3 linked regions of the Homo sapiens genome follow. The protein of the gene in region 1 interacts with the protein of each later gene in a pairwise test. Each region holds a gene or a part of one and is shown in the gene's direction. Other genes may lie near its edges. The genes, in order: FGF12, RP9 and ZNF79.

What was found.
Region 2: the proteins of FGF12 (region 1) and RP9 interact in binary tests that used the Homo sapiens proteins (3 or more experiments, as listed by UniProt).
Region 3: the proteins of FGF12 (region 1) and ZNF79 interact in binary tests that used the Homo sapiens proteins (3 or more experiments, as listed by UniProt).

Annotation. Positions count from the first base shown.
Region 1 is NC_000003.12:192,716,286-192,726,575, reverse strand, and holds part of FGF12 (fibroblast growth factor 12), read left to right. Parts: intron 1-10,290. UniProt on the Homo sapiens protein: Involved in nervous system development and function. Involved in the positive regulation of voltage-gated sodium channel activity. Promotes neuronal excitability by elevating the voltage dependence of neuronal sodium channel SCN8A fast inactivation.
Region 2 is NC_000007.14:33,097,024-33,106,421, reverse strand, and holds part of RP9 (retinitis pigmentosa 9 protein), read left to right. Parts: intron 1-5,520; exon of another isoform or gene 5,521-5,665; coding exon of another isoform or gene 5,666-5,715; intron 5,716-5,860; coding exon 5,861-5,891; intron 5,892-6,985; coding exon 6,986-7,115; intron 7,116-9,059; coding exon 9,060-9,151; intron 9,152-9,398. UniProt on the Homo sapiens protein: Is thought to be a target protein for the PIM1 kinase. May play some roles in B-cell proliferation in association with PIM1.
Region 3 is NC_000009.12:127,419,558-127,427,381, forward strand, and holds the start of ZNF79 (zinc finger protein 79), read left to right. Parts: upstream 1-4,824; 5' UTR 4,825-5,230; coding exon 5,231-5,246; exon of another isoform or gene 5,247-5,353; intron 5,354-7,824. UniProt on the Homo sapiens protein: May be involved in transcriptional regulation.

The DNA of each region.
Region 1 (10,290 bases):
CTAGTTCTGGACATGTACATATTAATGTTCTCCTCATAAGCAAATCTGCATAATGTATGCATGCCAACTGATAAATGAACTGTAAAAATCAACTTCTGAATGGCATATTGAACACACATAAACACAACGACTATTCTAACCACAAGATTAGATATCTTTTGGATTTAACCCCATCTATGCAGGTCTGTTTCTCCTTCTCCTTAAAACGCCCACCAGGTTGTGAGAGCCTTGAGTGATATGGTGGTCAGATATCCAGGAGGCATACTGGATGTATTTAATTCTGGCGAAATCAGAAGAAATGATGTCAACTTTTATGAAACTATATTCATTACCCAGAACTCGGGAAGCTATATTTGAAACAAGATTTTATTTTTAAACCAGGAATGTCAGTCACTGTGGTAATGTACTTAGGATCAGGGAATGGTGGTGAGTTACCTATTTCTGGGCTGATTAATGAAACTGGAGTGTTGAATGATAGCAGTTCTATGTTCAATAAAGTGTTTTAAGTATTTAATTGGTAGATTTAAAGTATTTGAACCTAGGCAAGCATTTATAGTATAAAAAGAGCTGAATCAACATGGATTAAGACTAGCAGGCAATTTTCAGTTCAGGCAGATTATTCTTATGATACATTGATGGGCATCTCCACGTCTGACAATGATGTACACATATGAGAGAATCCATGTCTATAAGTATATTTGAGGCATATATTATTAACTCTATTATACTCCATTTTAAAATAAAAAGGCAGTCCTTAACATATAAAGGTTTGTAATATTCTAGCTGACTAAGTATTTCTGGGACATAAGGTTAACAACAGAAAAAGAATATCATTTTACTATGAAACAGTTTTTCTTGCTTAGATGACACCTGGTATTTGGTCACTAAATTTAGTTATTTGACAAAGGTTCTTGGTAACAGTTTTGCCTCCAATGTGTATACTAATTCCTGTTCAATCATAAAAAGAGGCTATATCTCTCGGCAGTAATCTTTTATTTTCCTTCGTTGCCCATAAAACATGCTACGTGTCACTTAGCATTCCAGGTGGTTTAATGATCATATTGCTAACAGTAGAGTTCTAGCTGTTCTTTCAGTCTTTTGAATTCAGAAAGGAGAAAGAATCTCAGAAATACATCCGAAAAGAATCAGTTCAGAAGTTCTATGTCAATCCAGACAGCAATGATATAGTGAATCACAGCACTGATCCAAAGGCAACGAAGACTTTTGCTGTAGGCCAACATTGTGGTCATTTTGCAGAGGTCCCATAATTGCCTCTGAAAAAAAAAAAAAACATGATGAAAGTCTTTATGCATGTTAGTTCCTGGACTTTCTTAATGAAGCTGTGTTAGCTGCTTGGCAATCAGATTAAAAATGGCTAATTACTTATACATTGGCCTCACTTTCTAAGTTGGTGCAAATGGCACAGCTAACGATGGTAGCTAACTTGAAATTTTTATTCCAGCCAAAAAGAGTGTATTAAGAGAAATGTGTATTTGTGCAATACTGTAATTGGTGCATCTTTCACATTTTATGCTGCCGTGTACAAACTTCTTCCCCCAACAGATTCAAATCTAATTCTAGGAAGACATTCTCAAATGTATGTATATATAATACTTTTCTAGTAGAAACTCTTTAAAGATAGAGTCATATTGCGTGACTCAGTTGAGGGTTCAAGAGTTCTCTATCCCATACCCAGATCTAATGGCCTGTTTAATCTTGAATCCCATCGCCAACACTTGACAACTTTCACATTACCTCTAGCATTTGACAGCCTTTCTTAGAGCATTTGTCCAGCATCCAGAAAGTTGAACTTCAGCTATTTACAAATAAGATCAATTTATTTTTGCTTCCTTATTTACAACTTTGCATCACTCCCTGTCATACAGGGTAAAGAAGAGAGGAAAATACATCAGTTGACCTGAGGTTCAATTCATGATCTAATTTCAGCGATTTTTGTGCACCATGTACTTAACATTGTCTCAAAGATTTGGGTTGGTACGCAGTCCGAGCAGCTCTGACGGAATTTGTGCCTTGCGTATCTTAAGGGCTTGAGATTCTTAAATGAGTTAAAATGTTTAGTATTTAGAGGAGTGGTTCACAAAGTTTGCTGCACACTAGAATCACCTGACATACTTTCTGAACATACTCATCCTGAGATGGCACCGCATACCAATGAAATTAGAATATTGGGGTGGAAGAAAAAAGCATATATGTTTCCTTTAGAGGTCCCTATGTACAGCAGTGTTTGGAAACCACTGATTTAGACTCTTGATAGTCAAAATGTGGTTTGCAGACAAATTTTTTAGAACTGCAGAATCTCCATATTTACTCCAGGTCTATTGAGTCAGAATTAGAATTTTGACAAAGTACCTAGGCAATTTGTATGCACATTAATGTTTGAGAAGCATGATTTGGAGTGAGGAAACAGGCTTTTTCCTTCCTTTCCTCCTTCCTTCCTTCCTTCTTTCCTTCCTTCCTTTCTTCCTTCCTTCCTTTCTTCCTTCCTTCTTTCCCTCTTCCCTCCCTTTCCCTTCCTCCCTTTCTCCCTCCCTTTTCCCTTCCTCCCTTTCTTCCTTCCCCCTCCCTCCCTTCCTCTCCTCCCCTCCCCTCCTTCCTCTCCTCCCCTCCCCTCCTTTCCTCTTCCCTCCTTTCTCCCCTATTCTCCCCTCCCCTTTCCTCTCCTCTCCTCTCCTCTCCTCTCTCTCTCTCTCTCACACACACACACACACTCTCACCTCCCACTGACCCCCACCTATATCACATTTTTCTTTGTCTAGGTAGATTTCCAGCCTCAAGCTGGCATACTACCTATAGAAACACCTGTAGAGCTTTTCAAATGTAAAGATGCTTAGGCCATACCCCTAATAATGTGAGTTTAATTAGTTCTGGGGTGGGATCTGGGCATAAGTAGTTTTAAATGGCTCCCAAGTGATGCTAATGGATGGCCAGAGTTAACCACTGATGTAGGGCATTACTGCTGGTGGTCCACAGACCAGCAGCATTTGCATCACCTGGGAGCTTGTTAGAAATGCAGAATCTCAGTCCCTACACCACATCTACCAAATCAAATCTGGATTTCAACAAAATCTAATGGTCATTTCTATGCACTTTAACATTTAAGAAGCACTGGTGTAGATCTCAGGGAACTGATTGCACCTGAGAATGAATGACACCACTCCAGGCACCTCAGTAGAGAAGATTTGATATTATCTGTCTAATCATTATGAAGGCTCATGGATATGTGATCATGTTCTAGGTCTTCTGGTTGTTTTTGGATACAACAAAAATGAAATGAAAAAGAAACTGCGTGATCTAACTCATAGTTAGATCAGAAAACAAACTTACTTTTAAATACCCTTGCTGCTCATCCTCCAATCACTTACTTTCAACCCCCAATTACCCTAAATATTTATTCTCTACATTCATTTTAAGCTCCTGACAAAGTCTGCTGTTAACTCATGGTAATGTGATGATATTTGACTACTTAAATCAAGGCACTTCTAAACAGAGTGAATATAGTTTTATCCTTTTCTATTGTCATACCTCTCTGTTCAACCCTTTTGAGATTCCTATGACCTAAGTACTCGTTTGTCCCTCACATACTGCGTTTCTTACAGTCAACATTGTAATTTTTGTGCTTTTTATTTAAACAAATATTTATTGAGCATCTGATATGTACCCAATGTGCTTATTTCTGAGAATGTGAAAGAAAACTAAGATGCAATCTCTGAACTTGACAATTTCACTCTTCTATCTTCACTAATATATTAACCTTCTCGTGGGCAAAATCTGAGCCTTTAACATTCCAGCAACCACCTAAGTGTCTATCTCAGGTAGAATATTTAAGTTTGCATAGTAGGGATTCGAATTATATGCGTTGGATAGCCTTAATTAGTTTTTTTAGGCCAACTTCATGGATCCAGAAGATTGTAAGTTGGGAGAAGTGTGGGAAACTTAGCTACCAGGAGGGCTCCCAGAAACATCAGTGTGATTCCAGAACATGGAAGGGAGTAATTTGACCCACTCTCTCAAGAGAGACCTGCACATGTATTTCCAAGGAAGATTCAATTCTTTGTTCTAGATTTCATACCAGCCATCAGAGTTCAGTCAGGGCCATGAACCAACACACTTAAGGTATAGAACAGTCATTTCTCTGAAGCCAGGATGATTTACTCTGCAGCAGAGAAAGGAAATGTCTATGCAATCATTAGTATATCAGAACTGGAAAGCGATTTTAAGAAGAGCCATTTTGTGGTTAAACAATAACAACAACAATAATAAAAGACTGAGCCAGTATAGTGAGATAAGTAAAACATAATTCAGTAAAATCATGATGTATAGTCACTGAGTGTAGGAAATACAGTTTCTTACTCCACCTGTCATGGTGTAAATTTGGACAAATCTTTTCCTCTTTGGGTCTCAAGATTCTTAAATATCAAAGGGGGTCCAGTTCATTTAATTTAAAATACCGAGTTGCCACATTGTTCCAGGCACATTATTAAATGTGGGGGACAGAGGTATAAATAGTTTATTGACTTGCCCTCTAAAAGCTTACAATGTAGGGATATATGAACAGGATCAAGAGCTGTTGATTTCTAGCATTTTATGTGTCTTCTCCATTCATCTTTCAGAGTTCTAGTAGGTTATCCGGGAGGCTAGAATATAAAGTCTTACAGTGATTAATGAGCTCCAAAGAGGCACTTAACATTCCACAGCAATAATTCCTGCCTTTTGTTTCCCCTTTGGTTTATTTAAACAAAATTATTGTGTGGGAGAACATTTGAACTCAAGCTATGTATCTACTATAAAAGCTATTCCACCTGACTAGCTACCTGCCTAACCTGTTTCTTGCTTTAGGTTATTATGAGGCTTGTTACCCTCAGTAATAGGTCTGGGGGAGGCCAACCTACTTGCCATTCCCTTATCCTTTTTCTTTTGTGCTTTTAAGTTTTTGAAGTACCAACCTTATTAGGTTTGGTGTTTTGTGCTACTGATTGACCAATAATGGTTTATTGCATCTCTTAATATTGGGTTTCCTGATTTGTCACATATTTACACCCATAAATAACGTTCGTGAAACACTTTGTACTTTTTCAAAAGGCTTTTAATATATACAATCTCCCTTAAAACCCTGTGATTTGGCATTTTAACTTTATTTTATAGATAACAAAACAAAGGATCATAAAGACTAAATGACTTAGGCAACTCATCTTACCTCTGTTTCTCTGCAAAATAAAAATTCTTATACCCATCCCAAGTGCTGTACCATAATATCATGATTATGAAATAAAACTCATGCTAATAAAGTATTTAGAACTCTTTAGAATTATAATCTGACTTTCATCATTTTTAGCTGTATCTCTCTTTACACTAGACTGTGAGATCCTGGATGGTAGAAATTGGTCCTCTGCCATTTTTGTAGTTTTAGCAGCAAGTATACTGCACGACACTCAATAAATCACCCTTCATTAACTCCCACAAAAACTTCACTTTACCAAAAGGGATTTCTTGTGTGCTTATTCTACAGTTTTAATAGTAACGTCTCCAACACCTGAATTTGTCTCTACATCTTATGGGTTTGGGGATGGAGATATATTGAGTCAAGTATTACACCTTGGATGGGTTTAAAACATAAACTGTGTAAATTCTGGCCACTAACAATGGTCTTAATCGGGGTACATCTCAGAACCACCAGACATCCTGTAATACCTGCAAGTCAGATATTTAAGAAACACTCAGGTGATGATGTATGTCCTCAATTATGAATCCATCGATAAGCTCCAAGATGGTTACTAGGAAACTATAACACATACATGTGTTCTTTATCAGGAGCACTATAGGACTTCTACTGCCTGGGCCTTGTCTTTTATTACCACCCTCTTTAGTGTTAAGAGAGTGTGTGTAGAAGAGAGATTTCATTTCTGTACTACAGACTTGGGATTGAAAATAGATATGCAAAATAGATGGCAAGAGTTTGAGGCTAAGATGACATGCCATTTTCCCCAGCATCATCTTCCTCATCTCCTTATTAGCATCCTTGCATGCAGAGCACGGTAGGATTTTTTAAGGATCTATGTCAATAGTTCTAATTTTAGCTTTCTCATCTCTCCAGTTACTTTTTGAAATAGTCTCTGTCTCCTTGTCTTTGGGAATGTGAGACTCCCACCCAGGGAGGCCGTGGTATTTAACTGCTGCGATGCTGCTGATGGCACCTAGGCAGAAGTCCCAAAGGACACCTGTTGCCCCTTCACAGATCTTTTCTTTTTTCTTTAGCGCATACTCTGCCTGGCTTTTTACCTGAAACAAGCCCCATTACTAATGATTGAAAAAGCACACATAATTGAAAGTGGGACTTTAAACTACGTGATAGAAGTAAAGGCATGCTGCCATTCTGTGGTTAGGTTTTTGTTTCTTTCTTGTTTGTGGATTGGCCATTAGCCTGAGAAGCAACCCAAAGGGACTAGACTGCAGAAAAAGAATCCAGAAACTTTCAGAGGCTGTTCAGAAGATAACTAAATGCACCAAAGAGTCCTTTACCAAGCAGGCAGGAAGAGGCAGCAATGCCAATCTCTCCCTACCTCATTCACTTCTACAATTATCACCCACGTGAAACAGGTTTTCCTCGAATCCTCCAGTACTGATAGCACTCTAACAGATTGAACAAACCTCAACACAGGTAATTTGGGAAATTTCTTTTCAGATACTTGGGAACTGAAAAATCTAGATATGCTTCCTGCTTCAAAATGTGTTGGGTTGTTTTTCTTGTTTTTCTTTTTTTTTTTTTTTTTTGCCCTTAGTCTCTTTCACATATTATAATAAATTGGGGTTAGATACTCTACAAACAAGACTATTATATAAGATTTATTATATGATCATTCTAATTGTTTAAATCTGGAAAATTTAAAATTAGACTATTTACACATTTTATCTAAAGGCTTTTCCTTCATTTCAAAACATGTTCAACATTTCTAGCACTATTTAAAATTGAATTTGGTTTACTTCTTTCTTCTGGGATTTAAAAGAGAAATATTTGCTATGTATCAAGATAAAGGTTTTCATGTAAATCACTCTTTATTTTCAAGCCTACAAATAACTTAACATGAGATGAAATGAGTACTTTTTTACTATGGGCTTTGATTTGCATCAGCATAAAAAACAAACGATTATGCAAATATAGCAAGACCCTCAATAACAATAACGTAAACATGAAGGAGACAACTAAAGCAATAGCACAGACCAATCAGTGCCAGTCTTTTAAAATGAGACCATTGGTTGATTGATTCAATAAGCAGTATTTCCTTAGAACCTGCTGTTTGTTAGCTGTTCTAAGGCTGAGCTTTTCTAACTGTAGTATGCACACTGGTGGAATTATGACATTGTATACTCTGGTGATACACTGAGGCATAAAATACACATGGTGCATGTTCCAATGAAATATAACTAATATTCTAATGTATTAATCTAACAGACTACTTAGATTATTCTAATCTAATCTATTAAATGCTAGAAGATCTGGGATCAGGTTCTCGTTCTTCTATTCCATGGATGAACCTCAGTGTACTAAACCTCTCTCTCTTTTTTTTTTTTAACTCGGTTTGCCCATTATTGATTTTTATTTTCTTGTTACAAAGAAATTGTTATTTTAAGCTTGTTTGTATTCTTTCTTGATCCTCTTTAGGCTTAACTTCTACAGAAAATAAACAGGGTGATCATAATTACCACATCAAATTTTAAGGACTCAGTGTGGGTTTGAGCTAGCTTTTTAATGCTGTGAATTGTGCAACTGAAGTTGTTGGATTTATAACTTTATTGAGGAATTAATTTGATTCTGAGTGAGAAAGCACTAAGAGGAAAAAAGTGCTACTTGGCTAAAGTTTGTATATGGCATGATTGTGACCACATAGGTAACAGGTTCATGTCTAAATTGATGGATGGCTGCAGTGGCCTTGTGGAAAAGACGCTGTCTTGGGGATCCGGAGACCTGGATTTGAATCCTAATTCCCGCCCCATCTTCAGTTTGAGCTCGTGGCTTTCTTTCTATGGCCTTGTTCTTCATCTGCAAAACAAGAGTGGATTAGAGGCAAGATTCTTTTCACTTCTGGGATTGAAAGAACCAGCATTTGTGAAGTGTTTATATAGGAACTACAGTGGATACATTCTGTTTAAAGATTTATGATCAGCTGCTTGTTCTCTCCTATCTCTTTTGGCGAACTTGATGGCATTTTTGCTTAGCAGATTGTACATTATGTTTTTATAACGTCTTTTCTTCACCCTCATATGTGTCCTCTTTACAATTAAGATGAGTTTATTTATACAACAGTCATATGTGAAGTTGATTTGGTGGATATGGTTTTCTTCTCTCTGCCAGCCCTAACCAGCACCTTCTTGCTAAAAAAAAAAAAAAAAAAAAAAAAGAAAGACTAACAGAATAATGACAAACAGTCCAAGGGCTGAGTGTTTTACTGACATTATTGATAGGAAGTCTGATTTTCTTTAGTTCTCAATCATTAGTAATATATTACTAAAAAACAATTGCACTCAATCCTTCATTGCCTTCAAACAATTTAAAAACCAATAACTATGTCTTCCAATGTTTGATTGGCTACTGATCATTTTAGATAGAAGAAGCATTTTCTACCACCAGATGAAAGCTATCCAAGGTCTAAGGGTTTCATGGTTAATAAACTGAATTTCTTGATTATGCGAAGAATAAAAGAAAGGGAAATATCTAACAGCCATTAACATGTTTATGAACATGGGTTATAATCAGAAGTGTTTATGACATAATGGTAATTATAAAAATAGTACATGTGGATATATGCACTAATTATAATGTAAAATTTGGTCATTGGCAAATAGTAGATTGTATTATGCAAAAAGTGACAATATTTGGATAATGACGATTGAATTATAAGTGGAGTTTTATCCTTTTTCACATATTTTATTACAGTTTTTTTCCCATAAAGCAGATTTTCTTTCTATGCTTTATGGGGAAAAAAACTGTAATAGGTGTTGGGTTCAGTTATAAACTTAAACAGATCCAGCTAAACTTAAAAAAGCTCTTTATTCTTCATGCTTTCATGCTTTATTCATGTCAAACATTGAAAGGACATTTGGAAAGATAACTGAGTCTTTTGAAATAATGCTTTTGCAGCTTTTACTATGTTTAGGCACTGTACTTTACATATATTGACTCACTTAAGCCTCATAAAAACCCAATGAGGCAGGCACTATTGTCATCCCTATTTCAGGGATGAGAAAAGTCAAGCATAGAGATGTTAAGTAATTTGCCCAGGTCACACAGCTAGTAAGTTGCAGACTGGCTTCAGAGTCTATGAGCTTAACCACTACTTAACACCCAAGGCATACTTTAGTATAGTCTTATAAGCCAATCAACCTTCCTTTGTTACTGAAAAACTAGTCCCACTGTGTATGTACAGATTTTATTAACCTTCAGAATACCCAATCTCTGCAGGCTTAGTCTCACTCAAGCCCTGGGCCAATAAGATACAGACTTGAGGAATCACTGGGCCTTCCTGCCTGTTATCAGGTGGGTTCAAGAAAGAACCCACTGCTCTTATGTGCCTTAAGTTGGCTTCCACCCCTAGGGGCTTAATTAAGCATTGGGTTGCAGCTTCTTTTTCTAACCCTCACATTGAATAACTGTTCTGTTTACCTGGGCAGCTCAGTGGTGTGGTAGAAAGATCGTAAGACTTGAAATCAAACACACAACTAACAACTTTTTAGTCTCTGTAACTTGGGTAAGATATATTTCTGTATCCTTGCTTCCTAATTTGTACAATGACGCTCTTTCTAGGTTAATGAGACAAACGAGGAAAATATATATAAAGAACCAAGCTTAAAATTAGTACTTAATAATTACAGCTGCTACTGTTGTTATTCTTGTTGTTAGCATTTGACCCTTAGGCTTACTACTTCCTCTGCTTCTGTATGGGGCTGGATTCTTTCCTTAAAATCCCTAAGATTCCTCTTCATCTTACCTAGTTTTATTTTGCTCATTTTTATCTGTTTGGAACCAGAGAATGCCATGCAGCTGTGGTATGCAGTTTAAAACAATGTAGTTAAGATATACTCGTTTTAAATTATGCAATAAAAACTGAGTGGCAGTGACATCAATTGATTCCTATACTGATTTTTTAAATCATAGTTTTACTATTTTTTTCCCATTATCTGGCTTACAATGAAGTCTAATTTCTTCAGAAGAAAGAACCTGACTATTTTAACAGGGATGTTGACGTTGTTGGCTGGGTCCAGGAAACATTGCATTGT
Region 2 (9,398 bases), on another chromosome or scaffold:
GGAAGATCGCTTGAGGCCAGAAGTTCTAGACCAGCCTGGGCAGCATTTATAGACCTTATCTCTGCAAGAAAGAAGGAAAAAAGAAATTAACCAGGCATGGTGGTACATGCCTGTGGTTCCAGCTACTTGGGAGGCTGAAGTGGGAAGATCTGCTTGAGCCTGGGAGGTTGAGGCTGCAGTAAGCCATGGCTGCACTCCAGGACTCCAGCCTGGGCAACAGAGTGATATCCTGTCTCAAAAACAAACAAACAAAAAAAAAACAGCAATATAACTATGAATTATTACTCACTTTGAGCCAGGTAGTGTACTCTGATTTATTTTGCTTTCTATACTATTGTTAACTTTTAAGTAGTTAATAAGAGCCTTTGTTTTTCACTTACTTAATTTTCTACTGCTGTTTTTCCCCCAATGTCTCCAAAATCTGAGTACCATAAAGGTGAAAAGGTATCTTTCCTTACCTATCATAGGAGTCACAGCAGATACTCCTATAACAAAAAATAGGTCAACAAGAAAAAAGCATAACAAATGTATTTAATCAAAGTTTTATGTGACATGGGAACGTTGACAAAGGAAGACCCAGAGACCCAGAGGAAACTATTTTTATGCTTAGTTTGGATGAAGAATGTATAGCAGTGTAGAAATATGATTAGACAAAAAAGGGTATAATACAGTGGTCATAGGGAAAATCCAGCAAGCCCTGTCTATTCAGATTTTTCAGGCCTCTCTGTGTACGATTACTTCCTCCCAGATATGGGGCAGGACCCTTTCTGGAATGAGGGGTCCTGATCTATCAAACAAGGTAGGTCAGCTCATGTTTTTATGGCCACCTCTGACACAGAAAGGCAAGGAAATGTTAGGGTAATATTTGTAGGAGTTTATTATTATTATTTTAAATATTTTTTTAAAAGTTCCACTGAGATTTTATCTTCTTTAAAAAAAAAATTAAAGTTATTTGTAGGGCTTCTGGCTTGCTTTGTGGGAGACTTGTTCTAGTTTTTATGGCCCACTTGTGGAAAAGAGGAATTCTGGCCTCTCTGACTGCTTTGGGGAAGAAAGAAGGGCAGGAGACAGGAGGGCAAGAGAAGGTCAGAGAGCAACTGTCTTCTGAGGCCTTCTCTAATCTCATTTAGTTCAAAGTACTCAGCATGCCAAAGCACCATACTTTGGGGTATCATTTTCTGAGCCCCAATAGTACTTTTTCCACACATAACTACATATCAGGTAGTCAGTTCATTTTTTACCTAGACTCTTCAATCTGTTGTCCTTCAGTACACTGGTTACTTTTTAGACCTGGTCCAGCAGTGGTCCTAGGGCATCCTTTCCCACTCTCCTATCTTGCATCTCATTCCTGGATTCCATGTCTTCCTCTTTATAAGTTTACTCTCACATTTTACCAAAGCCAATTCTGCAACTTCCTATGAAAGAGTGCATTGGAGGTAAAGTTTTTGACACCTTGCATATCTGAAGATGTCTTTATTCTATCCTAAAACTTGGTACATAATTTGACTAGGTATAAAATTACAGGTCAAAAATCATTTTGGGGCTGGGCATGCTGGCTCACACCTGTAATCCCAACACTTTGGGAGGCCAAGGCAGGAGAATCATTTGAAGCCAAGAGTTCAAGACCAGCCTGGGCAACAATGTGAGACCCTGTCTCTACAAAAAATTTAAAAATTAGCCAGGCACAATGATATGGACCTGTAGTCCCAGCTACTCCAGAGGCTGAGGCAGGAGGAAAATAGTAACAACAATTTTCACTCAGTTTTGGCGATAGTACATCACTATCTTCTAGCTTCCAAAACTGCTAAGGAGTTTGATGCCATTCTGAGTCCCTTTCTTTTATAAGTTACCTGTTCAAGTTCACCTCACCCTTAAACGTTAAGAAACTATTCTTTATTGCTGCCATCCTGAAGTTTCATGATAATGTTAGTCTTTTCCAATTGACTTTTTTTTTTTTAACTTTTATTTTAGGTTTAGGGGTACCTGTGTAGGTTTGTTATACAGGTAAACTCATGTCATGGGGATTTGTTGTACAGATTATTTCATCACCCAGGTACAAAGCCTAGTACCCAAGAGTTATTTTTTCTGATGCTCACCCTCCGCCTGCCCTCCACCCTCAAGTGGGCCCCAGTGTGTGTTGTTCCCCAGTTTGTGCAGTTGACTCTTTTTTTCTTGACATGTCATGAATGCATTAACTACATATATAAATTTATGTCTTATTTCCTCTCCCCAATTTTGTTTTTTCCTTCTGTTGATTTTCTGTTGCTCTATCTCTTCTGTCTTTGTATTTTCATTGTACTTTGTAGATGTATCTTTTTCTCTACTAAACATATTTGTTATATTTCTAAATCAAAAAGCTTTTTCTCATTCTGCAAGTTGTTTTTTATATTATCCTGTTCTTGTTTCATAAGTGAAATATCTTCACTCATCTATGAGGATACTCACTCGTTTTTCTTTTTTGTTGTCTTTTGTTCCCTACATTGCCTCTATTTCTTGTTTGCTTTTTATTTTGATTGCTGTCTTACATTTAGTAATTTTTTTTTCTCTAATATCTGGGTATTCTTGAATCTCAACCATATTTTGTTTTGTTTTGTGTTTTTTAGAGACAAGCTCTCGTTCTGTCACCCAGGCTGGAGCACAGTGGCACGATTATAACTCACTACAGCCTCGACTTCCTGGGCTCAAGTGATCCCCCCTGAATCAGCCTACAGAGTAGCTGGGACTGCAGGTGCACACCATGACACCTAGCTAGTTTTTTTACACTTTTTTTTTTAGAGATGGAATCTTACTATGTTGCCCAGGCTGGTCGCGAACTCCTGGCTTCAAGGAATCCTCTCACTTAAGCCTCCCAAAGTGCTGGGATTACAGGCATGAGCCGCTGCTCTGGCCTCAACTCATTTAAGAGTAGGCGCTATACAGCTCTTGTCAAGGGCAGCTGTGTGTGGGAGAGAAAAAAGAGAGAAGGTGTTGTTTGTTGATCAGATAGCTTCATGATAGGGCGCTCATGCTGCAGGGTACCCTTTTTATCAAGAGACTTCCAAATGTCAGTAGTTGGAGATTTTTTTCTGGGGCTCCTAAGTTCCTCTAGAGAAGGGTCTTGAGTCCTCTGCCTGGGGGCCAGGGATCTCTGCCTGGCTGCCAGTGTTGCTGAATTGGAGAGGCTAACCCTGCAGCCTCCTTCAAGTGTTGGGCAGGCAGCCTCCTGGCTATAGGAAGGAAGCCTCATCTTCTGAAAAGTGTTACTTCTTCCACCCCAGGAAATCCATTGCTATTTCCACTTTCCCAAATTTGTTGAAAACTTCCTCTGATGTTGCCTCCTTTTGGGATATCTTTATGGCCTTTTTATTTTTTCACTGTCATTTTTAAAGCATCTGGGGAAGGAGATAGATAAGCATGTTGGTCAGTTGGCCATGTTAAATGGGAAGCCCCACAGTGCTCTTTTATAAATTGAATTCAAATCTTTTCATCCCTGATGTGATGGAGTCTCCTGAGTCTCCACCACAGTTTTCCCTCGGTGACCCTGCCTGCCAGGCCCCTGAGGGCATCCGAGGCTTCCACCTGCTCCAACACTCTCTGTCACTTAATAGCTCCTGGGCTGCCAGGCATAACAGAGTGGACCTTCTGGGTGTATGTGGCAGTTTCACCTCTGCCACGCAGCCCCTTGGATGCAGCTGCAGGAACAATTGTGTGGAATGGAGTACACTTGCATTAGGGACTCTTCTCAAAGAAAACCCATCTCAACAGTCAACAGAAAGAGTAATTTGAAACACTTAACAAAAGATTTCTTACTCTGTACACACTTGAGAAGACAGCGTGTCTCAGACATAACTGGTCTTCTTCCTACTCAGAGAAAGTTAGTACAGTCTGAATGACTAAGTAAGGCTTTTCAGATGGCACAAAATAATGCATCTCAATCAACTTTTTTTTATCTTGAGAATTAACTGCAGCTGGACACGGTGGATCATGTATACAATCCCAGTACTTTGGGAGGCCAAGACAGGAGGATTGCTTGAACCCAGGAGTTCAAGGCTGCAGTGAGCTGTGATCACGCCACTGCACTCCAGCTTGGGTGACAGTGACTGCAAAGATAAATGCATACCTCTTAACTGTCACACTGTAGAACCTAAACTGTGCGTGAACATACTTCAGTTTTCTAATCTGTATTTAGTAGTTAAATACTACTTTCAGAAATATATTTTTGAGTATACTACATTAATGAATTGTTCAGCCCCGGGAAACAACATGAACCACCCTTCTTTAAACTTGTGAAACCACTTGTAAAATGGACTTTGGGAATGCCATTGCTGATAATATTATATTTCCAAATGTGCAATTGCATCACACTCATTTTCATCTTGGCAAGAACAGTTACTTTTTTTTGAGAATTTGGATCTCAATTCGATTGGCCATATATTTTTTGTATAATGCTTGTGGCTCAAAAGGATTCATTTATTGGATTTTTGGATTTATAGACTTTACTGTCAAGCTCCTTCTAGTCTCTATGCATAAGGTATAGCATTAATGTTTCTAATGAATGGCTACAGATAAACTATCATCTTCACAAGTTGTGCAGATTTCCATTGTTTTTGCTCCATTAGGCCTATGTCATGCCACAGCTTTTTGTTAGAAATATTTTAAGCACCTACTTTGGGAAAACACTGTACCACACTTACAAAGCTAATCCTGTTAATACACAGTTGTTTACTATTTAATCTTGAGGGAACAGATCTGGGATTAGTAGTATTTCTCATCCATTGTCCATCAAGTTGCTTTCTCCCACATCTTATAGAAGGGGAGAATGAATTTTTTTTTTTTTTTTTAAGACAGAGTCTCACTCTGTCTCCCAGGCTGGAGTGCAATGGTGCGATCTCAGCTCACTGCAACTTCTGCCTCCCAGGTTCAAGCAATTCTTCTGCCTCAGCCTCCTGAGTAGCTGGGATTACAGGCACCCGCCACCACGCCCAGCTAATTTTTGTATTTTTAGTAGAGACGGGGTTTCACCATGTTGGCCAAGCTAGTCTCGAATTCCTGACCTCAAGTGATCTGCCCGCCTCAGCCTCCCAAAGTGCTGGGATTACAGGCGCGAGCCACCACGCCTGGCCAAATGAAAATTTTTTCACTTTTCCCTTTGTCTATTCTTGACTCCCTTTTCCAATATTCATTGTCTTCTAAAGGGTCCCTTAAACTATGCATAAGACGAGAGTCCGAATGAAGAAAACATTAAATCATTAAGTGTTTCTCTATGTTGCAGCCATTCTGAAGTATTAAAATAAGAGAGCCAGGTGTCATGGTGCCATGGTACACAACTGTAGTCCCAGCTACTCAGGAGGCTGAGGTGGGAGGATTGCTTGAGGCCAGGGGTTTGAGACCAGCCTAGGCAACACGACAAGACCCTGTCTCAAAAAAAAAAAAAATACTTCCCTAAAGGTTTAAAGGGTCAAGGGACAGACCTGAGCTAAAAATATTTGCATATTACTCTTTTGGGAGGAGGTACAAATTGCTTTAGGAGCCTGAGAGTTGCTCTTTGAGTGCACAAACACCTCGCCTTCAGAATTTCCTTCCCATCTTGCTGCCTGTCCCATCTGGAGACTTGCGTGCTCAGCATTCTGGGTCTCCTCTGGGTTCAGTCCCTGGATGGAAATAAGGAAGGCCTGGCCAGTCTTAGATGGCAGGTGCCGCTCAGCACAGGGAGGAGAAGCATTCTGCTCTTCTCAGGTGATTGCTTGTCTGCAAACCAGTGATAAAAGCTTATTGTTGCTAAAATCTCTGATTAAAAATCCTATAGCCCCTTTTTTGCAGTAACTTGATGTGTTATGTTTACATTAACATGGTTGATAAGGTTTTGTTTTTTGTTTTCCAGTTACGAAAAACCTCCTCCTGGGCTTATCAAGGTTAGTGTGAAGTTTGTACTCTTGGTTATTCCACAAGACATACTTGTAGACTCAGTAACTTGTTATGAAAAATAATTGCATGATGTTAAATCTCCTTTTACCAAAAGCCTGTTTCTTTTCCTGCAGATGAATGAGGGGTCATAATTTTTAGTTTTGTCACAAGCCTCTGCCTTTGCAGAAATTTCATCAGCCATGTTTCCCTTCCCTGAAGAACCAGTGCAGGCCCACGTGGATTCCTTGGCCATGCCCCTCTTCTCTCTTGCTGGGGATGGCATCTCTAAGCTCCTTTTCCTTGTCGGCCTCACCCGGCTCAGCCCCTCGGTCCATCCTCTGCTGGTTTCTTGAGCTCAGCAGCTCAGAGAGCAGTAAACTCTGAGGAGATCTGACAGCTATCCAGTCCCGCTCCCTGGTACAGGCATCCCTCCTGCAGCTCCCTGGCCAAGGTGCCAGGGTGTGTGTGCACGAGGGAGACTTAGAGTGGCAGGCCACGGCCAAGAAAACTTGCTGTTTCATAACTCTCAGCGAAGAAATATTCTTTAAAAACATGAGTCTATTGTAAATTTAATATTCATAGAAACTTGAAAAAAATCCAAAAGTTTGAAAACACATTAATTGTAAATGCAGTTATTGAGTGGTAAAAATGTACATCAGAGATATAGCATGTGTGTGACTGTAAAACATGACAGGGCCTTCAGGGTATAATAAACTATTCTAGCATAACAGGCCATTTCTATTATTCCAGGAAGCCTGGTTTACTTTAATTCTATATTTTGAGGTAGTGAAACTTTTTTTTTTTAATCTCAGAATCTTATTTGGAGCTCCCCAGTCATTGCTATATAAGGACAGATTTTTCTGCTTCACCAGTAACTTTTCTCTAAGAACAGCTACATTGTTTTTGGTATAGTTCTTCTGGTACATTTGTTTCCTGTTTTTTCAATCAGGTGTAACTTGTCTTTTTTTCTAGTTTTGAGGGGTAACTAAGATGATGTTGGCACCGGAAGCCCAGGAAAAAGCCAGGCAAGGGTGGCTCCAAGGGGAGCAGGAGAGAATCCCAGCGCTCTTGCCATGCTGTTTATACCTGTTCCCTTTTTTAGGAAGATGAGACTAAGCCAGAAGATTGCATACCAGATGTACCAGGCAATGAACACGCCAGGGAATTTCTGGCTCATGCACCAACTAAAGGACTTTGGATGCCACTGGGGAAAGAAGTCAAAGTTATGCAGTGTGAGTGTGGGAGAGTTTCCCTAATCCATGCAACTTACATGCCTCAATTTACAAAGAGTGTTTACTTCTTTTATTTAACTTGTTCTCATCACAGCCCTCTTACAGCCAAGGCACGTTCTCCATCTTCTAGATAAGGAAGCATCCACCCCACCCCCCACCACCGTGCCATGTGAAGAAGAAAGAGGGCTGTCATCTTAAGCCAGGAAGAAAGCTCTCACCACAAACCCACCTTGCTGGGACCCTGATCTCAGATTTCCAACCTACAGAATGAATGAGAAAACCAGTTTCTGTTGTTTAGGCCACCCAGAATACGGCATTTTGTTATGTCAGCCCGAGCTGACTAAGACACCATCTTTCTGCAGGTCCCCTTAGCCTCTCTCCCGTGTTGGATCACCCATTTTCCTGTGTCTTGAGTCTTCTTTATTATCATATTCTCTCCTTATGGTGTAACAAATCCTATGGCTGTTACCTTCAAAATGGGTTTATAGAAGATAAAAATGTTAAGACCTTTACTTTTCTGGAATCGTCTTTAACAGATTTTTAACTACCAGGATATTGAATTCTAATTTAAAAATCAGTTTCCTTGAGAATTTTGATGGGAATGCTTCATTGCCTTGATTATTTGTTAAAAGCAAAGACAACGTGCCTCAGAGTTCAGTATCTATCGGTTTTTCTTCTTTGGGTGGGTTATATTTTCCCAGAGAAGGCTCCCACGTGGAGGGAAAGCCATACTATGAGTGTTCTGGGAGCCGAGTGGAGGGAGTCTGGAAATGTGTCCATCTGCTTTTCATTCATTCGTGTGACCCTTTGTGGCTATTGCAGCAGCTTCCTTCAGACCTACCTGATGTCTCCCTGGTCTCCCTGGCCAGAGACCCTCTGTTTTACCTTTTCCACACATTAAACAACCTTCTACCAGGGTCAGGAAAACAGGGTCTCACTCTGTCACCCGGGCTGGAGTGCAGTGGTGTGATCACAACTTACTGCAGCCTCAACCTCCCAGAATCAGGTGATCTCACATCAGCCTCTGAGATAGCTGGGACTACAGGCATGCGCCACCAGGCTTAGCTAATTTTTTTGTACTTTTGTAGAGATAGGGTTTCACCATGTTGCCTAAGCTAGTCTCGAACTCCTGGCCTCAAGCGATCTACCCGCCTCTGCCTCCCAAAGTGCTAGGATTACAGGTAGGAGCCACTGTGCCCAGCCACCATTAATATTCTAAGAGAACTTGTGATTTTATTTACTTAAAAGTGAGAGTTTTGAACAGACTCAACCTGAGAAAGAAGCTTTTATAGTGTCTAAAATAGTAAATGAGAAGCAGAGATACTTTATGAAAACATTTACTCTGAAAAATATACTGAAACACACTTTAAAAAAAATGTACCTTTTGGGCCGGGCGTGGTGGCTCACGCCTGTAATCCCAGCACTTTGGGAGGCTGAGGCGGGCGGATCACCTGAGGTCAGGAGTTGAAGACCAGCCTGGGCAACATGGCAAAACCCCATCTCTGCTAAAAATACAAAAATTAGCTGGGTGTGGTGGTACGCACCTGTAATCCCAGCTACCCAGGAGGCTGAAATAGAAGAATATCTTGAACCCAGGAGGCAGAGGTTGCAGTGAGCTGAGATCACGCCACTGCACTCCAGCCTGAGCGACAGAGCAGGACTCCATCTCAAAAAAAAAAATTCACCTTTTGAAGTAATTCTCCATTGGATTGCTTCATAAATACTTGGTGATAGAATATTATTCCTAAAGGTATAAGACTAAAGGATGCTTGGGGAAGCAATTAGTTTACCTCTGTTTCTGGGATCTTACATGGCTTGTCCATAATTATATTTTGTTTTAGAATTAGAGTTTAATGAAGAAAAACTTGAATATATTCTGCTGATTCTTTATCTTGAGTAGGTGAAACTGTTATCTTACAGAAATATTTCTCTTTTCGTTTTTAGGTTGGCGTTGCAAACGCTATGGTCACCGAACGGGTGACAAAGAATGCCCTTTCTTTATCAAAGGCAACCAAAAGTTAGAGCAGTTCAGAGTGGTAAGTAAAGTCCAAGAGTGTCAATTTACATTTATCAGAGATAGTGAAAATCAGTGAAGCAGAAAGTCACCAGTGAACTTGAATGGTCACATAAAATACATTCCCAGAAGCCCTTTGACCAAAGTGTGTGCTGTTAACTACATGCTTATTAAATTACATTTGTATGACAAATTAGCTCTTTTACAAAAAAAAGGAATTCTTATTAAAGTGATCTTTGTTTGTAACTTGGAACAGTGATTTTTTTTCT
Region 3 (7,824 bases), on another chromosome or scaffold:
GATGGTGCCACAAATAGCTGACCAGGAGATAACAGGATGATGGCAGCCATTGGTGGACTCTGGTCATCAGGAAATTGAGGCCCAATTGTTGCCTTAGCAACTATGGCTGGGGCAGGGAAAGGCTGGGGTTGAAATTACAAATTCGTCTGACATGCTGAAAAGAAGGGCCAGCAACACAAGGGTAGGGTCCTCCTTATCTCTGAGGCCCCACCCCTCAGAGCTGAGGCAAGGACGGAGCCTTTTTCTTAGCTACAGACATCACACACTAGGCCGGGGACAGTGGCTGTGCCTTCCTGATCACTCAGGAAAAAAGGAATGCCAAGCTTGGGTCTAGGGGTGGTGGCATGGGAGGAGTGTTGAAACAGGCACTTGGAGAACCCGTGCCTGCCCTGGGGGAACATCATTCATTCACTCTTTCAGCATCTGACTACCTACTGTGTGTCAGGCAGTTGTAGACACTGGTGATATGGTGGTGGCAAAGAATACAGCACCTGCTCTAATGGGAATTAGCTTCTGAAGAGAGGCAGACAATAAGAAGTAAAGAAACAAACAAAAGAATTAAACAGGTCACACCTGTCAGCCCAGTGCTTTGGGAGTATTTTTTTTTTTTTAATTAGCCAGGTCTGGCCTGGCGTGGTGGCTCACGCCTATAATCCCAGCACTTTGGGAGGCCGAGGTGGGCAGATCACCTGAGGTCAGGAGTTCGAGACCAGCCTAGCCAACATGGTAAAACCCCGTCTCTACTAAAAATACAAAAACTAGCCGGGTATGGTGGTGCGTGTCTGTAATCCCAGCTACTTGGGAGGCTGAGACAGGAAAATCGCTTGAACCCGGGAGGCGGAGATTGCAGTGAGCCGAGATCCCGCCACTGCACTCCAGCCTAGGCATCAGAGTGAGACTCCATCTCAAAAAAAAAAAAAAATATATATATATATATACACACACACACACACACACATATATATACATATATACACATATATATCTATATATACACATATGTGTGTGTGTGTGTGTGTGTGTATGTATAGGCCAGGTACAGTAGTTTATGCCTGTAATCCCAGCATTTTGGGAGGCCAAGGCGGGCCGATGACCTGAGGTCGGGAGTTCAAGACCAGCCTGACCAACATGGAGAAACTCTGTCTCTACTAAAAGTACAAAAAATTAGCCTGGCATGGTGGCGCATGCCTGTAATCCCAGCTACTTGGGAGGATGAGGCAGGAGAATCGCTTGAACCCAGGAGGCGGAGGTTGTGGCGAGCCAAGATCGTGCCATTGTGCTCCAGCCTGGGCAACAAGAGCGAAACTCTGTCTAAAAAATAAATAAATAAATAAATAATAAAATTAGCCAGGTGTGGTGGTGCAGACCTGGAATCCCAGCTACTCAGAAGGCTGAGGTGGGAGGACTGCTTAAGCTCAGAAGTCCAAGGTTGCAGTGAGCTATATGAGTGGTGTGCCACTGCACTCCAGCCTGGGTGACAGAGCAAGACACTGTGTCTAAATTAAGAAAAAAAAAAAAGTAAACCCAATCTATGTGAACTTATTCAACAGTGGAAAATGCTAAAAGGAAATAAAAAGTCACCATGGGAGCAGCAAGGGCTGTTACTGTACAGGGTACTAAGTGAGGGCCCCTCCTGAGACGTACGCTCAGACATCATGCATGAGAAGCGGCCAGCTGTGTTGAGTGCTGCTGGTCATGGCCCCGCAAGTGCAAAGGTTGTGTGGCAGGACGGAGGCTGGTGTGACCTCTGAAGCCATTAAGAGCCAGTGTGGCTCTGAGCAAAAGGAGAGGCAGGGAGCCGCAGCATGTGCTTGTGGAAGTAAGTAGCTGTCTTGTGGCCTTTCCTATGGCTCGTTTATTTTCTTTCTTTTTTTTTTTGTTTTTTTGTTTTTTTGAGACGGAGTCTCACTTTGTCTCCCAGTGAGCTCTCAGCTCACTGCAACCTCCACCTCCTGGGTTCAAGTGATTGTCCCACCTCAGCCTCCTGAGTAGCTGGGATTACAGGTGTGTGCCACCATGCCCAGCTATTTTTTTAATTTTTAGTCGAGACGGGGTTTCACCATGTTGGCCAGGCTGGTCTCAAACTCCTGACCTCAGGTGATGCACCTGCCTCAGCATTCCAAAGTGCTGGAATTACAGGCGTGAGCCACCACACCCGGCCTTGGCTCATTTTCTCCACAAAGCCATTTCCTCTGAGTCAGTGATTTTCAAACTTTATAGCGTATCAACTACAAGGATTGTCAAAACAAAGGCTGCTAAGCCCTGACCCCAGAATTTGTTTTATAGGTGTGGAGTGGGACCCCTGAATTTGCTTTTCTAACAACTTTTAAGGGGGATGCTGCTGCTGCTGGCCTGGGGATCCCACTTTGAGAACCACCACATTATTAAGGGGACAGGACACTGATTGCTTATGACAGCTGAGAGGCAAGACAAAGGAGAATCTCTTTTTTTTTTTTTTGAGATGGAGTCTTGCTTTGTCGCCCAGGCTGGAATACAGTGGTGCGATCTCGGCTCACTGCGACCTTTGCCTCCGGGTTCAAGTGATTCTCCTGCTCCAGCTCCCTGAGTAGCTGGGATTACAGGTGCGTGCCACCCCGCCCAGCTAATTTTTGTATTTTTAGTGGAGGCGGGGCTTCACCATGTTGGTCAGGCTGGTCTTGAACTCCTGACCTCGTGATCTGTCCACCTCGGCCTCCCAAAGTGCTGTGATTACAGGCGTGAGCCACTGCGACCAGGATGATCTTTCTAAGCAGTGTGTCTGTGCTTCAGGACACACAAGGGCCAAGTTAGGGCAGCCAGGGTCATGACCCTTTTGGCTGCTGTTGGAAGGGGAGGGGTGACACTTGCTCCTGGGTGCTCCCTTATCTCCACATACGCTATATCAGCGGGGTGGGGACAGCCTGAGGCTGGCCAGAGCTTTCTTGGGGGCCCTTCTCCCATCTTCCTTCTGCCACCTCAGGCCTCCTCAACACAGGAGGCCAGACAGAGGGGCAAGTTTGCCTCATTCTGGCCTCCTGGTCCCAGGGATATGAAACACTTCCTCTTCCCTAAGTGTCCTATCCATCCCAGTCTAGTTATGCTTCCTCTCCTCAAGGTAGCAAGATTTCTCTGACAAGAAACTTCTCTCTAGCCACTTGAGCCCAACGCCTCTTCTCAGGAGATGGGATTCAGGACTCTCAAGTGTGGGAGGAGTACATTAGCAACACTGGGAACATTTCCTGATCACGGATTCAATTCTGAAACGACCACGGCAGTGAGTCTAGAGTGAGGCCAGGTATCCCCCAGTGATCCAAAAAGCACTCTGGATGCAGCTTTCCTGAGAGCTGACAGGTCTGGGATACCTCTGCCAGCCTGACAGCCAGCTGGATCCTAGATTCCCGGTATCCATTCACTTCCATCTGGTTTTCTAATCCTGCTGTGGTCAGCAGAATACCACCCCCCAAAGATATACATGTCCTAATCCCCGGAACCTCTGAATATGTTAGGTTACATGACAAAAGGGAATAAAATTGCAAATGGAATTAAGGTTGCTAATCAGCTGGCCTTAACGATTCTCCTCAATTAGCTGGGTGAGCCCAGTGTTAACCATGAGGGTCCTTAAAAGTGGAAGAGGGCTGCGGAGGAGAGAGAACCATACAGAGGGCAGCAATGGACGGACTCTGGCTGAGGTTGCTACTTTGAAGTTGGAAGAAGGGGCTGCGAGTCAAGGATGCAGGCAGCCTCTGGAAGTTGGAAAAGGCAAGAAAAGATTCTCCCCTGGAACCTCCAGAAGGAATGCAGCACTGTCGACACCTTGATTTTAGCCCAGTGAGACCCACTTCAGACTTCTTACAAAACTGTAAGCCCCAAACTACAGCTGCCCAATATAGAGAAGGGCTAGCTCAAAGACATTTGTGAGTGTGGCTTCTCCGATGGAGCCAATCCCATTAAGATTCATAGGAAGACCCACAAAATTAAGAAACTTACACTGGCAAAAATGCCACCGGCTGTGATTGAAAGGGAAAGAGACAAGACAAAATGAAAAGGAGCCTTAGAATCCCCATACTCACTTATTTCCTGGGTAACCCAGTCCCCTCCCCTTAACGACAAAATGCCTATAAAAAGGAGCTGATCATCGAAAAATTGCTTAAGAAGTAATTTCCAAAGGGCTCGAGGGAAAGTCCATTGAAACATCCCCAGCCTGCAGCAGGGAAGCCCTTAAGGAACACAGGATTCAGGAATCTCCTCCCGCAGAAGTGCTGATCAAACACTGCCCCTGAAATGACTGAAGCAGTTCCCGCCGGCCGATAGGTTTTTATACTTTGAGGGTCCCAGGCCACCCACTCACGGCTGTCCTGTTCAGACTGAGGGACTTCTGATTTCCTTTAGTCTTCCCAAACTTTTAGTACGGCTCAAGAGGACCCTGAGAGTGGCTGGTGATTGCCCTGAGTGGAAGGCCAACGAGGGACAGGCGTACCGTGCGCAGAGAGCTGCGGAGAGGAAACCAAGCGCCTAGCGCCAGCGAAGATCGGCGCCCCTGTAAGCCCAGCATTCCCAGAATCCTTCGCGGCTAAATCTCTTCTTTTCCTCGAGGCTCCATTTCGTTGGATTCTGGTGGACTTTAAAGACGTGTGCAACAAAAAAGCACGATGGATAATAGATTCCGGGAGCAAGCACAGGCGGAAGCCTCTCTGGGAAGTACAATCCCTGAGCGTGTGTGTATCATAAACCGGGCTGCAGGAATGAAAAAGACTTTGGCCAGAAACAGAGCCCCGCGGCGACTTCTGGGAAATGGAGTCCGGTGTGGCCGCCGCGGGGCATGTGCGCATGACCGGAAGTGGCGCCAATCAGGCGCGTCCCTCTGGCGCTGGAGCCAGGACCTGGCGTTGGGCGGTACTTGGACAGCGGTTCTTGAGCTCTCGCGGTTGCCGGTAGATTGTTGCCAGTTGCCAGTTGCCAGTCGTTTTTCGGAAAGCTGGCAGCGGCTTTTTCACCGGGTTCTGCTTGAGGCCGAGCCAAAGAGTGGCTGTGACTCGGGAGACGGAGTGGAACACCCGGCTGGGCAGGCCCGGACAGCTCCCGCGACCCAGCACCGCAGGATCAGACCGTGCCTCTGCGGGGAGAGGCTGGAGAGGAAGAGTCCGGCCTGGGAGCCGTCAGAGCAGCCCTGCAGAACGGGGTGGGGGCTGCTGTAGATAGACCCTTACGCCCAGAGAACTGCTGGGAGGCTGTGGCGCGAGGCGGGACTCAAATGCTGGAGGAAGGAGGTGAGGAGTGGTAGAGGGAGCGATTGTCAAGAGATCGGCTGCTGCTTCGTTTGCCCACGACTGCCGCTGTGTGAGCCGAATCAGAACTCTCTTTATCTCTCCTACAGGTAGTTGGAGACAATCATTTTTTCTTTCTTTGCCCATGACACAGCCCCAGGAGATCCTGAGAACATGTGCCCCTACAGTCCTTTTTTGAGTAAAGAATTCGGGGGTCAAAAAAGTTTGAGGACCTCAGACTGCGTGATTTCTGAGTATTGTACCACGTACCCCAGTCTGCCCAGATGGACCAATGACAGTGGAGAGTAGGGAGAAGTGGGTTCCTGGGGACTCCTCTGTCACTTTTCTCCTTCTAGCCCTTCTCGAAGCAGCCAGGAATGCCTGGAAGCCCGGGAAAGTTTGGGGGCAGGCCAGCCCAGTAGGATTGTGAAGTTGTGGAGGACAGGGGAATTTGCAGTTAGAAGGCACAGGTTCTTGTGAAAGCTGTGAGGTACCAGCCAGGTCTCTTAACCTGTATTTCTCCATGGAAGAAAGGACAAAATAATGTTAACTACTTTGTTTACCTCTGAGAATTGTAATTCTCAAATGAAATAACACTTTTGAAAGCACCCTGAATGTGGTACAGAACAAATGTGTAAGCAGGCAACCTCTTTTAAGTCTTAACCACCAACACCTCTGCTGTTCACCCCTAGATCAACTGTATTTGGTCTTTTACTCTACAAGTGCAATTTTACATCCAGAATTTGGTGCTGTCCCCAAGATCAAGAGGTCCTTGTATTTGTTTTTTTTTGTTTGTTTTGTTTTGTTTTTGAGACAGAGTCTCGCTCTGTCGCCGAGGCTGGAGTGCAGTGGCGCAATCTCAGCTCACTGCAACCTCCGCCTCCCAGGTTCAAGCGATTCTCCTGCCTCAGCCTCCTGAGTAGCTGGGACTACAGGTGCCCGACACCAAGTCCAGCTAATTTTTGTATTTTTAGTAGAGACGGGGTTTCACCATGTTGGCCAAGCTGGCCTCAAACTCCTGACCTCAAGTGATCCACTGGCTTCGGCATCCCAAAGTGCTGGGATTACAGGCGTGAGCCACTGCTCCTGGCCAAGAGATCCTTATATTTGGTCTTGCACTTGAAGAGTAGAGAGTGCAATTTCACATCCAGTATTTTGTGTTATCTTCCCCAGACACCTGGGAAAGCAGAGCAGATGGGTCGTCATCTTCCCCATACTGCAAAACAGGAAAGGAAGTGCTGTCAGGTTAGATAACTCTCAGTAACAGAAGGTCTGTCCTAAGATCAGGATCCAGATCTATTTATTTATTTTATTCAGATATCATTCACATACCATAATATTCACCCTTTTAAAGTGAACAATTCAGTGGTTTTTAGTATTTTCACAAAGTCTTGCAACCATCACTATTTAATTCCAGAACATTTTTGTTATCTGAAGAAGAAACCCCATAGCCTGTAGCAGTGACTCCCCAGTCCCTCATTTCTCCACAAGTCACTGGCAACCACTAATCTGCTTTCTGTCACTATGGATTTGCCTAGGACATTTCAAATAAGTGGACTCATAATATGTGACTTTTTTTTTTTTTTTTTTTGAGACGGAGTTTTGCTCTTGTTGCCCAGGCTGGAGTGCGATGGTGCGATCTCAGCTCACCGCAACCTCCGCCTCCCGCGTTCAAGTGATTCTCCTGCCTCAGCCTCCCGAGTAGTTGGGATTACAGGCACCCGCCACCACACCCAGCTAATTTTTTGTATTTTTAGTAGACACAGGGTTTCACTGTGTTGGCCAGGCTGGTCTTGAACGCCTGACCTCAGGCAATCCACCTGCCAATATGTGACCTTTTGTGTCTCGCTTAGCACATCATTTTCAGGGTTCATCCAGGTTATAGCATGCGTCAGTACTTCATCCCTTTTTGTGGTAGAATGATATTCCATTGTATGGAGAGATCACATTTTGTGTATCCATTCTTCAGTGAATTTTTGTGTGTGTGTATGTTTGATTTCTCTTGGGCATATACTTAGAAGTGGAATTACTGCGTCATACAACCCTCTTTGACTTTCACAGGAACTGCTGAACTTTTTCCACTGTGGCGGCATCATTTTCTATTCTCAGCAGTGTATGAGGTTTCCAGTTTCCTTACATCCTCATCAACACTTGTTATTCTCCATCTTGTTTATTATAGTCATGTTAGTAGGTGTGATGTGTTCTCTCATTGTGGTTTTCATTTGCTTTTCCCCAATGACTAATGATGTTCAGTTTCATGTAGGGAGTGGCTATTTGTATCTCTTGCTTGGAGAAATATCTGTTCAAATCTTTTGCCCATTTAAGAATTTAGTAGGGCCAGGCACAGTGGCTCACACCTGTAATCCCAGCACTTTGGGAGGCCTAGGCAAGCAGATTACTTGAGGTCAGGAGTTCGAGACCAGCCTGGCCAACGTGGTGAAACCCCGTCTACTAAAAAAAAAAAAAAAAAAAGTTAGCCGGGCGTGGTGGTGCGTGCCTGTAATCCCAGCTACTTGGGAGGCTGAGGTAGGAGAATCGCTTGAACCTGGGAGGTGGAGGTTGCAGTGAGCCAAGATTGTGC